3 separate regions of the Homo sapiens genome follow, and all the other regions are linked to region 2. Evidence: fine-mapped expression QTL. A gene starts in region 2. Each other region holds a variant in brackets. All regions are shown on one strand. Distances are from middle to middle.

Region 1 (4,227 bases), 99 kb before region 2:
CTATGGTACAGTCATGTGATGGAATACAATGCAGTATTTTTTAAAATGAGGAAGCTGGCTAGGCGCAGTGGCTCATGCCTGTAATCCCAGCACTTTGGGAGGCCAAGGTGGGAGGATCATCTGAGGTCAGGAGTTCGAGAACAGCCTGGCCCATGGAGAAACCCTGTCTCTACCGAAAAGACAAAAATTAGCCGGGCATAGTGGTGGGTGCCTGTAATCCCAGCTACTTGGGAGGCTGAGGCAGGAGAATCGCTTGAACCTGGGAGGCGGAGGTTGCAGTGAGCCGAGATCGCACCACTGAACTCCAGCCTGGGCAACGGAGCAAGACTTCGTCTCAAAAAAAAAAAAAAAAAAAAAAAAAAAAAAAAAAAAATGAGGAAGCTAGCCAGGTATGTAGACAGGTCTCCAGATTATATAGTCAAGTGCAAAAAGCAAGACTATAATAATGTACATACTACGCTACTCTAGATTTGTATAAATGAGTGGCAAAAATAAGAATGCATGTATCCATGTGGGTTTTTATTAGCACAAAGAAACTCTAGAAGGATACACAGAAAAACAATAAAAGGTGATTACCTACAGGTGGCTTGGAGGGGGTAAGAGGGAGACTTGGCAATATATCTGTTTTAATATTGACTTGGTTTTTGACCAATGTGGATAGATAAAACGTATTCAAATTGTTTTTTTAATGCAATTTAATACAATAAAGTATTTGAAAAGGTAAAACTTTGAACAAAATGATGCATCAGCCCAGGCCCAGTGGCTGACACCTGTAATCCCAGCACTTTGGGAGGCCGAGGAGAGTGGATCATTTGAGGTCATGAGTTCGAAACCAGCCTGGCCAACATAGTGAAACCCCATCTCTTCTAAAAACACACAAAAAAATTAGCTGGATGTGGTGGCGCACACCTGTAATCCCAGCTACTTGGGAGGCTGAGGCAGAAGAATCACTTGAATCCAAGAGGTGGAGGTTGCAGTGAGTTGAGATCACTCCACTGCACTACACCCCGAGCCTGAGCGACAAAGTGAGACTCCATCTCAAAAAAAAAAAAAAAAAAAAAAAAAAGAAGCGTATCATCCCAGGCTCCAGCCCCAGAAACTCTGGTCTGAGCTGAGGACTAGGAATAAGCATTTCTAAGCATTCTCCATTCTTTTAACTCTGAAGTGCAAAGGTGAAAACACTACCATTGACCACTCCCATCAGTAACATATGCAGTTCAGAGTGTTCACAAAAGCCAAGATATGGAATCAACCTAAGTGTCCACCAATGGATGAAAGGATAAAGAAAGTGTGGTCCATACACACAATGAAAAACTATCCGGCCATAAAATGGAATGAAATCCTGTCATTTATAGCACCACGAATGGAATGGGAGACCATCATGTTAAGTAAACTAAGCCAGGCCGGGTGCAGCGGCTCATGCCTGTAATCCCAGCACTTCTTTGGGAGACTGAGGCTGGTGGATCACTTGAGGTTAGGAGATTGAGACCAGCCTGGCCAACATGGTGAAACCCCGTCTCTAGTAAAAATACAAAAATTAGCTGGGCGTCTGTAATCCCAGCTACTCAGGGGGCTGAGGCATGAGAACTGCTTGAAGCCAGGAGGTGGAGGCTGCAGTGAGCAAGATCGTGCCACTGCACTCCAGCCTGGGCAACAGAGCAAGACGCTGTCTCAAAAAATAAATAATAAATAATAAACTAAGCCAGACGCAGAATGAGAAACACAGCGTGTTCCCACTCATATGTGGGAGCTAAAAAAATGGATGTCATGAAGGTTGAGAGTAGAATGATAGTTACCAGAGGGTGGGAAGTGTGTATAGCTAGGGGATGAAGGGGAGATGAAGAAATATTGCATAAACATAATGTTAGATAAAAGGAATAAGTTCCAGTGTTTGACAGCATAGTTGGGTGGGCAGAGTTAACAATATATTGTATATTTCAGAATAGCTAGATTTGCAATATTCCCAACCCATAAAAATGATAAATGTTTGAGCTGATGGATACCCTGGTTACCCTCAGT[T/G]GATCATTACACATTCTATGCGTGTGTCAAAATATAACATGTACCCCCATAAATATGTACCTGTGATAGTTACACTGCTTAGCAGCTGTGTAACCTTCCACACATTGCTTAACTTCTCTGAGCACAGTCTCCTCATTTATAAAATGGACAAGTATTATACATTGAAAAAAATGCCAGATTTTTTTTTTTTTTTTTTTTTTTTTGAGACAGGGTCTGGCTCTGTCGCCCAGGCTGGAGTGCAGTGGCATAATCTTGGCTCACTGCAACCTCCGCCTCCTGGTATCAAGCAATTCTTGTGCCTCAGCCTCCCAAGTAGCTGGTACCACAAGCATATGCCACCACGCCTGGCTAATTTTGGTATTTTCTGTAGAGGCGGGATTTCACCATATTGCCCAGGCTAGTCTCAAACTCGTGGGTTCCAGTGATCTGCCTGAGTTGGCCTCTCAAAGTACTGGAATTATAGGCGTGAGCCACAGCACCCAGCCAAAAAGCCAGATGTTTAAAAATAGGCAGTTTGGCCAGAAACGTTCCAAAGAATATTCTCCATGTAATACACCACCATCACTGAACGATGACCATGGTGCTAGACGCTTGCTTATCTCTGTAATCCTGTTGACCGCTTTCCACTAAAGAGGAGGGAGTAGGGTTTAGCAGTCACAGAGCTAGTCAGGAATCAGGCCAGGTCTCCTAAAATCTGCTTCAAAATCTGGGATAAGTGTCCATCCAGGGATGAATGGACAAAGAACATGTGGTATATGACTGGGTGTGGTGGCTCCTGCCTTTGTGGGAGCTAGGTAGATGGTTAGCACTAAGACACTCAAAGAGTGGGGAACTTGGCTTATGAACAGTTTTAGACAAATAGTTGTATTATATAAATTAATCACATGTCAGCCATCAATAAAGAAGTCCCAGGATTCAGAGGCAGTCCCTGCTAATGGAAGAGCTCGGGCATACTGAGTCACCCACTGATATGTGTTGTACCTTCAGTTTTCTCTGCGGAACAGCTTCCCAGTCCACGGAGCGGAACCACCGATGATGCTTCACATCATTCGCCCCGTTCTTCAAAAGAAACAACACATGTCGTCAGTGTACAGAATTTTGACAGGGCAGGAAAGAAAAATACCCCAAAGAATCTCTACATTATTTTAGTATTGAAACAAACAGACCAAGTTTGCTGCATTTTGGAGAACTGTGCCTGGAGGGTGAGCTGCCAGGAAAACCTGCAAGCAAAGCTGTTAGTGTTTTGTTTGCCCTTTTTTGCCGCAGAAACAAATCCAGTCATTCTGCTCCTGTGCAATGCATTTGCATTCCGGACCAAAGACGAAAAAGGTAAATACGATTCCATCTCTCGACATAAAATTGGACAGCCAGTAGTTTCTCAGTTTGTCTCCTGTTTTCATCTTGGCAAACTTACTCAGTATTTTACAGACATAGAAACTAGGGTTCAAGGAATGATGTTAATTTGCTCCGTAGGACCCAGCAAGTAAATAACAAGACTGGGAACTCAAACCAAGGATGTCCAGTTTAAGAGACCTTAGGAACGACATTGCACGGCCTGGCAATTAACAAGGTGCGTTCAAGTCGGCCTGCTTCATGCTCAAGGGTAGCACCAGGCATCGCTGGCTCACACTGTGGCCATCACGACCTCTGAAATCCCTCCCAAGTGCTCATCCGTAAACCTCACTCTGCTTCCTTTTCTTATACTTGTAGTGATGTCGTTATCAATTAAATGTGGGACAGCAGAAGAAATAAACGTAGGTTCCATGAAACAGAAGCCAGTACATCTGAATTTAACGCGTCTATCAGTTAGCATTACTGTAGTTTCAAATTTCTTATCCTTAAAGAGGAATACGTCCACAACCATATCTTCAAAAGGAAACAGTAATGTGAATTTTTTCTATTGTTTTCCCATCCAGTTGTTTTGACAACTTTTTCTTTTCTTATTGCAAAACAGGTATTTTTGATCTATAGCTAAGTCAGGCAACAAACAATAGCTGTTGAGTTTTCCCTTCAGCAATGTTGTGAATAAGAATAAATAAGAGTGCTGTGAATAAGAGAATAAAATAAATTTTATCCATCAGATAAAATTCTAATTTGGATACTAAAGGATGTGTGTGTCTGTATATACTCACATGCATACATAGTAATATATACACACACACATACATATATACACACATAGATTGATATATACATACTTATACACAT
Region 2 (4,227 bases):
TGGCGGCTGCGCCAGTCAGGGTTCCTGCCCCACCCTTCTTCCGCGCAAAACACACCCAGCTCTAAGATTAGACCAGGACAGCTTTCCGGGGGGACCAAGACAAGGGGGAAGGCAGAGAGAGAGGAGGGAGGGAGACAGAAAAACCAAGACCGGAAGGGGACAGGGAGAGAGACACCAAGAGACAGAGGAGGAGAAATGCAGAGAGACTTGAACAGAGACAGAAAGAGGGAGAGAGAAGAGAAACAGAGAAAAGAGAGAGAGAATGAGATAAAGAGGAGGAGGGAGGGAGAGGAGAAAGAGAGAGGGCCTCCTCCCACTCTGTCCTTCCAAATTCAGGCTTTCCTCGTGGGCCCTTCCTCAAGGTCTAAGTGGCAAAGAGGTCACTGAAGGAAGCTAAGTCCCCTCTTCCTCAGCGGTTCTAAAGGCCCCACTGGCTATGCCCGCTGGTCTTCCTAAGTCATAAGCTATGGCCTCGAGCCCTTGGGCTTCCCAGCCCAGCTTCCTCCTTTCCAAAATGAGGACAAACAGGAGTTAGAGGGCCTGAGAGCCGACGCCTCACCAACACACCCAGGACAGCCCCCTCTACTCTCCCATTTATTTTCTTGACAGCCAACACCCCACTTAGCCATACGGAGTCCCTAAGTGGCACAGGCGGGCCGATGACAACTGTTTAAATCCAGCGCCCACGTTCAGTTGGGATATTCTGACCCACTCAGGGCTGCTCCATAAAGCAGCGCGTGTCCGGATGCAAGAGCACCGAGAACTCGAAACCTCTCTGTCAAGCTGCCCATTCGGGGTTAAGTTCAAAGACAGAGGACAAAGGAAACGGATAAAGCGTCCGATACAAGAATTACCCATTTCAGAGGCACAAGACGAAGAGCACAGGCGGTGTCAGGACATGTTAGGATCCGTCCCCAGCGCTGCCGTCCTCGTCCCCACAGCGCCCCGGGACACCTGTCCCCCACAGCCCAGCTGCTCCTGCAGCCCCTGGAGAAATCTGTACATTCCCTGCCTCTGGGCACACAGGGAGGCTGGCCTAGGGGAGGCCTGCAGGGGTCTTCGCACCCCGCGCCAGTGTCCCTGGGGCCGCTGCCAGGGAGGGAGCACGAGGTCCCCCAGGCGAGGTGACCCGCAGGAGGTTTTGTGACGTCGGACGGCCCAGGCCCCAGAGTGCTGTGTGTGCTGGGGGTGGAGGGTGGTCTCCGAGAGGAGCCGTCGGCATTTCAGGTTAGGCACCCGGCCGGTCGGGGGTACTTGCCTGGGCTGGGGGGCTGGGGAGTGCGCTCCACCCGGGAAGACCCGGGGCGCAGGTGCAGCCCCGCACGGGGACTCCGAGCCGAAGTAGCGGGTCAGGGCCCTCCCCAGGAGGTCGGCACCCAGGGCCCTTTGTCCTACTACAACGTCCCGGCCACGCCGCGCGCCCCTGTGGGCCGAGTCCCCGCCCGCACTCACTCACCCACGGTGGCCAGCGTGTCAAAGTCCTGCAGGCTGTACACAGGCGGCTCCGGCGACAGCGCCTCAGGGCTGGGGCAGAGCGCGGGCGCCCCGTCGGGGGTCTCCTCCGCCACCTTGCGGGAGTCGCTCTCCGCCGCGGCCGCCTGGGCCAGCCCGGGCGCCTCCATGGGGACGCACTCAGGTCCGGGGCACCGGGCCAGGCCGGAGCGCTCGGGGAGCCGGGCTTCCCGGGACGCAGCCTCGGAGGGCGGCGCGGCGGCGGCATCAACAGAGGCTCCCCATGCGCGCTCTCGCCTCCTGGTGCGCGGTCCGGCGCGGCTGACGGAGCGACGGGGACAATGGCTGGGCGGCGCTCACGGCACAAGCAGCAACGGCCCCGAGTGGGAGCAGCCGCCGGCCTCGGGGGGCGGGCACCGAGTGCGGGACGACTGCGGGGAAGGCGGGGGCCGCGGCCCGGGCTGGGGGGGGCGAGGCGGGGGCCCTGCGCATTCCGGGTCTCGCGCCCGCCGCCTCCTCCAGCTCGGTAGCCGCGTGCGCGCTGTTGGGGCGGGCGGAAGCCGCCTGGGCGTGACCGCGCCTCTCCCCGCCCTAACCCGGCCGCGGGGCTGGGGGCGTCGCCTTCGCGCGCGCTCCGCCCCCGCCCCGACCCAGCCCAGGAGCCGGAGACCCGGGCGTGCGGCGCTGGGGAGGTGCCCACGCCCCCTCCGCGCCCGGGGCACCCCTGGGGTGGGACCCAGGCTGACTTCTCCTCGGGGACGCACTGGCGGGCCACCCGCGTCGCTGCACCCAAGCCCGGAAGATGGGGAGGCGAGGGGGCCCGGGGACAGGGAGGGCGTAGCTCAGCAGAAGTGAAGTTCAAAACTAAAAAGTGAAACTGGCGTTTGGTGAAGAGAGGGGCTCGGATTAGCCCGGCTAATTTTTGTATTTTCTCAGTAGAGACAGGGTTTCACCATGTTGGCCAGGCTGGTCTGGAACTCCTGAGCACAAGTGAACCGCCTGCCTCGTTCTCCCAAAGTGCTGGGACTACAGGTATAAGCCACCACGCCCAGCCTCTGATTGGCTTTAAGTCATAGAAAATAGGATTGCTCAGCTGGCAATCTGCATACAGATCCCCTCTGCCCTCCCCCCAAAAAGTTCAGTACTCCTGCGGGTGCTTGTTTGGGACCTGAGAGAATTTGGAATGAGGGCGGATCCCCAAGAGGGGCTGCCGGGTCTTCGGGATGAGTTCAGCGTCCTGGTTTTGCTGTAGGACTCTGGTGATTCTAGATTTCTACTTGGAAGGGGCGGGGAAGGGCGGGCTCGACCCTGTGCGTTTCTTTGCAGCTTCCTGTGGATCTAGAATTCTTTACAAATAAACATTCCTTTAAAAAACTAGGGAAAGACAGATTTGAGAGATCGCCCGACCAAATGTAGTGCGTGAAACTTGATTGGTCACTGTTTCAAACACCCCGGCGACAACCCTATAAAGAATTGTGCAGAGGCATTTCAATTTCAGAAACCCCAAAGATTTTTTTTTCCTGGCTTAAGTGTGGCTCAGGCAATAGTTGGACATACTTATATTTAAAACCCATATCCGTGTGGATTTGAAATGCAAATATAGCTAGATATTTGGTCACCCCTTTCCCCAGGGAAATGCAGACAGTGCTTAACTTGCGGGCCTGGCACGGCCTGGACGCTGCGCCCCTGACCCGCGACCAGGGCGGCCCAGGCTGCCGGTTCGCCGACCACAGTTTGAGCAGCAAGGGGTCAAACTGCAAACGCCTTTGTTTTGAGGGATCTCAGCGATTCTGCGATTGGAGGGGGTCTCCAGTCCCTCAGTCCGCAGGTCAGGGGGGCTTTCCGAGAGCCAAAGCGGCCTCTAAGTCAGAACGGACACATTTTTAGGGGGACCAGGCCGAGCCATCCTTCCACAGCTAACGGGGAGGGGGAGTCAGGAAGTCTGAACCTGGCTCAGGCTTTGGATTTCTGGCCCCTGGCTGCCAGCCTCGCCCAGCCTCCACCTGCATTTTGTGGGTGGCATTTCCCCCCGGGGGTGACACCCGCTCCCTATGCTCTGCAAAATCCTGAGCTGGAATGCAAAACATATGCGACACCAGCAGGCCCCTGCCATCCCCTGAGCCTGGTTAGGACAGGTCACGGCCCTGCCAAGCTTCACCAGCAAGCCGCGCAATCCCTTGATCCTGGTTAGGACAGGAAACGGCCCTGCCAAGCCCTGCCTGGCCGAGGGGTTCAGGGCCAGCAAGGAACGCGCACTCAGGAAAAGTTCGTGTCTCCCCGCGGAACGCGCGCCCTCTCCACTAGGGCCTGACCTTGGAAATGCAAGGCTGCGGCCTCATAAAGTCCTTTTAATCAAGGCCCGGGTTTCACACCCAATTAAGCAGATGTCCTTGCCTGCAAATTGCACGCAGGAAGAAGAACGTGGCACAGATTTGCAGCGTTAAACTCTGCTTGAGCTGCTGGTTGGTCTGATTCCACCGAACCCACCCTGAACTTGACCGCATAGCTACCTCTTCTTATAAATAGACCCTGCACGTTTCACAACACCTTGCTTGACAAAACAGCTTTCATCTGGAAGGATCATAAAAATCCTTGAGAAACCACAGCCTATTACTTGAGAGACAAAAAAGGAAAATCCCTGTGAGTTAGGCATGGAAGGGTCATTACCGCCTTAATGAAGTGGCATTAATTTGCGGTGGAGTCAGGAATTGCTGAACTCTGCCATTCGGAAGGAATAAGTCCCTGACCCTAAACCAGAATGAGCTATAAATTCAA
Region 3 (4,227 bases), 270 kb before region 2:
ACACCTGCATGAATGCACATATATACACACAAATGCATGCATACATAAAATCATACAGAAACTCGTGCATACATATGCCTGCATGAATGTACACCCATGCACTCATACATGGGAACACATGTGCATATACAAACACACATACATAATACACTCATGCAGAAATGCATGCATTTGTGCATCTACACATACAAACATGAACACACAGAAATACATGTGCGTACACAAGTTCATACAGAACATACGCATACAGACACATAAACATACAGAGTCTCAAGGGGAGTCACCCAGGTCAGGGCCAGATGGGGGACATAGCTGAGACTCAAAGGGTCCATATGGGTGGCAATGGAGCCCTGATCAGGCCAAAACCCCAGGTACACAGGCTGCAGGCTCCAGCCCCAGTGCCAGCAGCATGCAGGTGGATGAAGCCAGACAAGGCTCAAGCAGCAGCACAGCTATTCTTCTGCTGAGCCTCCCTTAACTCAAGGCCTTCTCTCCATGGCTAGGATGTAGTTTGCTCCCCACATTTCACTTCCAGACCTCAGCTTGAAGAAGCTCTTGGTGATGATGGCTGACGGCAAGACATGAAGAACAGGCCATGCATTTCCCCAGAAGGAACCATGAACCTATGGACACACCAAGAGGGTCTCTGCTTTGCACTGAATTTACTCCACCCCATTCTTCCAGCTTAGTGGGAGATTTGCAGCCCTTCAGATTAGCGAACAGATACTAAGTGTGCACATTTTGCAGTTTGCATGCCTAAAAGTGAGTTCAGTAACCTTTGACACCCAATCCATCAGGGTGGTCCAGGAAGGACAGTTGTGGTCCAGGAAGGACAGCTAATGTTAACAGTGACAAACGATGACCGCCAAGGGCTCTATCAAATTGCATTTGCAAATTTGGCTTTTATCTCACTACCATAACCATGCACCACTGTAACCATCTGTGTCGATTCAGCACTTTTTCTATTTTAATTTTTATTGAGCTCTGACTAGGTGGGAATACTAAACTAGCCCATATGCCCACCTGGAAAAGAGCCCAGTGCTGGCAAAAGAGTAAGCTTATTTGTAGGACTGCATTCTACATTTCATCCATGTGCAAAAAAAAAAAAAAAAAAAAAAAAACTGAAAACATAAAACTCGAGAAGGACCACCTGATACAGGTGATTATTTTCTTTTTTTTTTCTTTTTACTTTTGGGAAATATTTCACCAAACCATTTATTAGGCTAATTAATGGAAGTGGGGAGCCCTACCTTCAACACACAGAATACTGGCTGTTGGATATGTCCATCTGTTCAAGTCTCAATGTTTCTTTCCCTTCCCCCCAAATCCATATGACAAAGTTCTAACTGCCAGTGTGGGTGTATTTGGAATAATGTCTGTTAAAAGAAAAACCTTAGACAAATTAAATTTAACAGAGGTTAATTGAGCAAAGAATGATTCCCAAATCAGGCAGCCCCCCAAAACCAGAATAGGTTCAATCTCTGGCTTTGCTGCATGGTCAAAGATTTATGGACAGAAAAATGAAAGTGAGGTACAGAAACAGCTGGATTGGTTACAGCTTGGCATTTACCTTATTTGAACACAATTTGTACCATTGGCCACCTTTGACTGGTCAAAACTTGGTGGTTGGCACAGGAGTGGATTCCAGTCCATTTGCATGTTTGCACATCCAGTTAGGTTACAGTGCACTGTGTGCAGAGAAGCTTTGAGGTTGAACTTAAAATATGTGAGGAGGCAGCTTTAGGCTAAACTTAATTTAACAAGATGTAATTAAGATTCAATGATATTATGGTTTGGATGTGTCCCCACCTGAATCTCATCTTGAACTGTAGCTCCCATAATCCCCACGTCATGGGAGGGACCGAGTAGGAGGTAATTGAATCATAAAGGTGGGTCTTTCCCATGCTGTTCTTGTGGTAGTGAATAAGTCTCACCAGATCTGATGGTTTTGTAAAGAGGCGTTCCCCTGCGCATG[C/T]TCTCTTGGCTGCTGCCATGTAAGACAGGACTTTGCTCCTCCTTGGCTTCTGCCATGATTGTGAGGCCTCCCCAGCCATGTGGAACTGTGAGTCCATTAAACTTCTTTTTCTTTATAAATTACCCAGTCTTGGGTATGTCTTTATTAGCAGCCTGAGAACAAACTAATACCAATGTCATAAGGATGGAGACCTGATCCGGTAGGATTAGTGTCCTTATAAGAAGACACTCTGGGGAGTTCACTCTCTCTCTCTCTGTCTCAATCTCTCTCTATATATATGTTTCTCTCCTTCCTTCCCTCCCTCCCTCCCTCACTCTGTCCATCTCACCCTCTCCACCATGTGAGGAACCAGCAAGGAGGCACTGTCTATGAACAAAGAACCAAGTCCTCACCAGACATTGAATCTGCCATGCCTTGGTCTTGGACATCCAGCATTCAGAATTGTGAGCAATAAACATCTGTGGTCTAAGCCCCCAAGGCTATCACACTTTGTTGAGCATCCTGAGCTAAGAGACCATCTCTGGGTGTCTAACCCCTCACTTATCTATTGCTAGGTCAAATGGATCATACAATCTGCAATATGGTTGAGTGATAGGCCTCCAAAGGAAGCAACTGGACATCGGCCAGCTGAAGAGGTCAGCCAGAGGATCCTACTATGGTCGTTAAGGTACAGCTCCCACTTCCCATCACCAGGACCCAGAGGAAGCACATGGGTACATGTGTAGGCAGCGTTTTAATTCTTCAGCATTTATTTTTGCCAAGATGGCAGAAGGGACACGGGAAACAATTTGTTCCTCACTGATTTCTTCTGCATAGGCTCTGGGTTGAGTAATGCTCCCTGAGTGTGTACACCTGTGTGGGCCCAGCCAGCCCTGCTACTGGTGGCAGTGTGGCCTCGTAGGGGAAGGGCTCGTGCTTTGCTGACAGGGTGGGGAACTTTCTGGTAAAATGCTCCTGGAATTGACATTTGACAGATTAACTGTGCTGGAAGACAGAGTCATAAACAGAGGGTTCTGGGGAACCACTGAGAGCCAGAACCTCATGGTGGACATCTGTCATTTATCTATGTATCATCTATTTATCTATCTATCTATCTATCTATCTATCTATCTATCTATCTATCTATCATCTATCACCCACCCATCTATCCATCTATATCTATCTATTCATCTATCTATCCATCATCTGTCTATCCATCATCTATTTCTCTATGTATTTATCATCTGTCACCTATCTATCCACGTCTCTATCATCTATCACCCATCTATTTATCTATCCATTATCTATCTATCATCTATCTATCTATATAAAATCTATTACCTATCTATCTATTCATCTATCATCTATCTATTTATCTATCCATCATCTCTCTCTCTCTAACTATTCCTACTATGGAAATGTGCTTCAGTGTGTACTCAATCAGAGCTTCCCCATGCACAGATTTCATTTGGGTTCAGCACTCTGAGGGGTACATTGTGAGTGATTTCAAAGGATTCGAGGTCAATCCTGGATATTCCCAGGTATAAGGAAAGGAATGTGGAAACTCAAGCTCTTATCCCTGCTTTGTTTAGGCCAGACGCTAAATAGCCAATTACACAGAGGTGTGTCTTGGGCTCTCTTTGAAACTCCAGGAACAGTCGTGTAGGCTCACATTCTCTTTGCCATCTGGCCATTTGTATGAATCCAGTTGATGATAACGCAGCACATCTAATAAGCAGGTACCTCCATAAATTTCCTACCATTGATGCTACTGCATGGGCTGAAATATGTCATTCAGGAGCAAGAGTGAGGCAAACAATGGCCTTCCCAGTGCGTGCAGGAAATAAGAGCTTCCTGTCAAGGAAGAGACGAGTCTGTTATTTAGCTTAAGCAGATTTCCATGTATCAGACAAACAACTATATTTAAACCAATGCATTTGGGGAAAAATATATACTGGAATATATAGTTCAGCATTGCAAAGAAGCAATGCCTGAATTGTTGTGAGTTTTGGTATACGTCCACCAAATATCCTCTCCCTAACAATGGTGGGAAGGAACCACACCTTTAGAACTCTCTGGGACCCAGGCCACAGGAACGACATCTAAATAAAATTGCTTTATACTCCTCTGATTGGGGAGAGTAGAAATTATGCTTTTTGCTCTCTGGGAAATTGCTAGGTATGCTTGCGATTCAGGAAAGTTCTTACCTCACTCATAGTTAGGTTGAAGCAGAGGTGTCGGAAAGACAAGAGGAGTGAATGTGATTTGAGGCT

Which allele goes with the higher level. Alleles are on the strand shown, and positions count from the first base shown. SD is a standard deviation of normalised expression in the study named. Not every link is listed here.
For the expression in tibial nerve of the gene that starts at base 2,018 in region 2, T is the high allele of the variant in region 1 and G is the other (small effect, 0.07 SD a copy in GTEx).

What was found. PIP is the estimated chance that this variant, and not a neighbour inherited with it, causes the effect.
Region 1: its variant is the best candidate, but not a certain one, in a credible set for the expression of PRKX in tibial nerve (GTEx, PIP 0.72).
Region 3: its variant is the best candidate, but not a certain one, in a credible set for the expression of PRKX in esophagus muscle (GTEx, PIP 0.87).

What each region holds. Positions count from the first base shown.
Region 1 is chrX:3,612,815-3,617,041 of GRCh38, forward strand. PRKX (protein kinase cAMP-dependent X-linked catalytic subunit) reads right to left here. Exons shown (of 9, transcript NM_005044.5): 7 at 3,001-3,078. Among named protein-coding and RNA genes, the nearest start is that of PRKX-AS1, 45 kb to the right of the region's middle. The variant T/G (reference allele first, on the strand shown) is at 2,020.
Region 2 is chrX:3,711,632-3,715,858 of GRCh38, forward strand. It overlaps PRKX (protein kinase cAMP-dependent X-linked catalytic subunit), which reads right to left and starts at 2,018. Exons shown (of 9, transcript NM_005044.5): 1 at 1,457-2,018. The coding sequence starts at 1,622. RefSeq lists enhancers at 112-241, 642-951, 3,283-3,930 and silencers at 1,122-1,401, 1,442-1,571, 1,592-2,321.
Region 3 is chrX:3,445,004-3,449,230 of GRCh38, forward strand. No RefSeq gene overlaps it. Among named protein-coding and RNA genes, the nearest start is that of SNORA48B, 85 kb to the right of the region's middle. The variant C/T (reference allele first, on the strand shown) is at 1,976.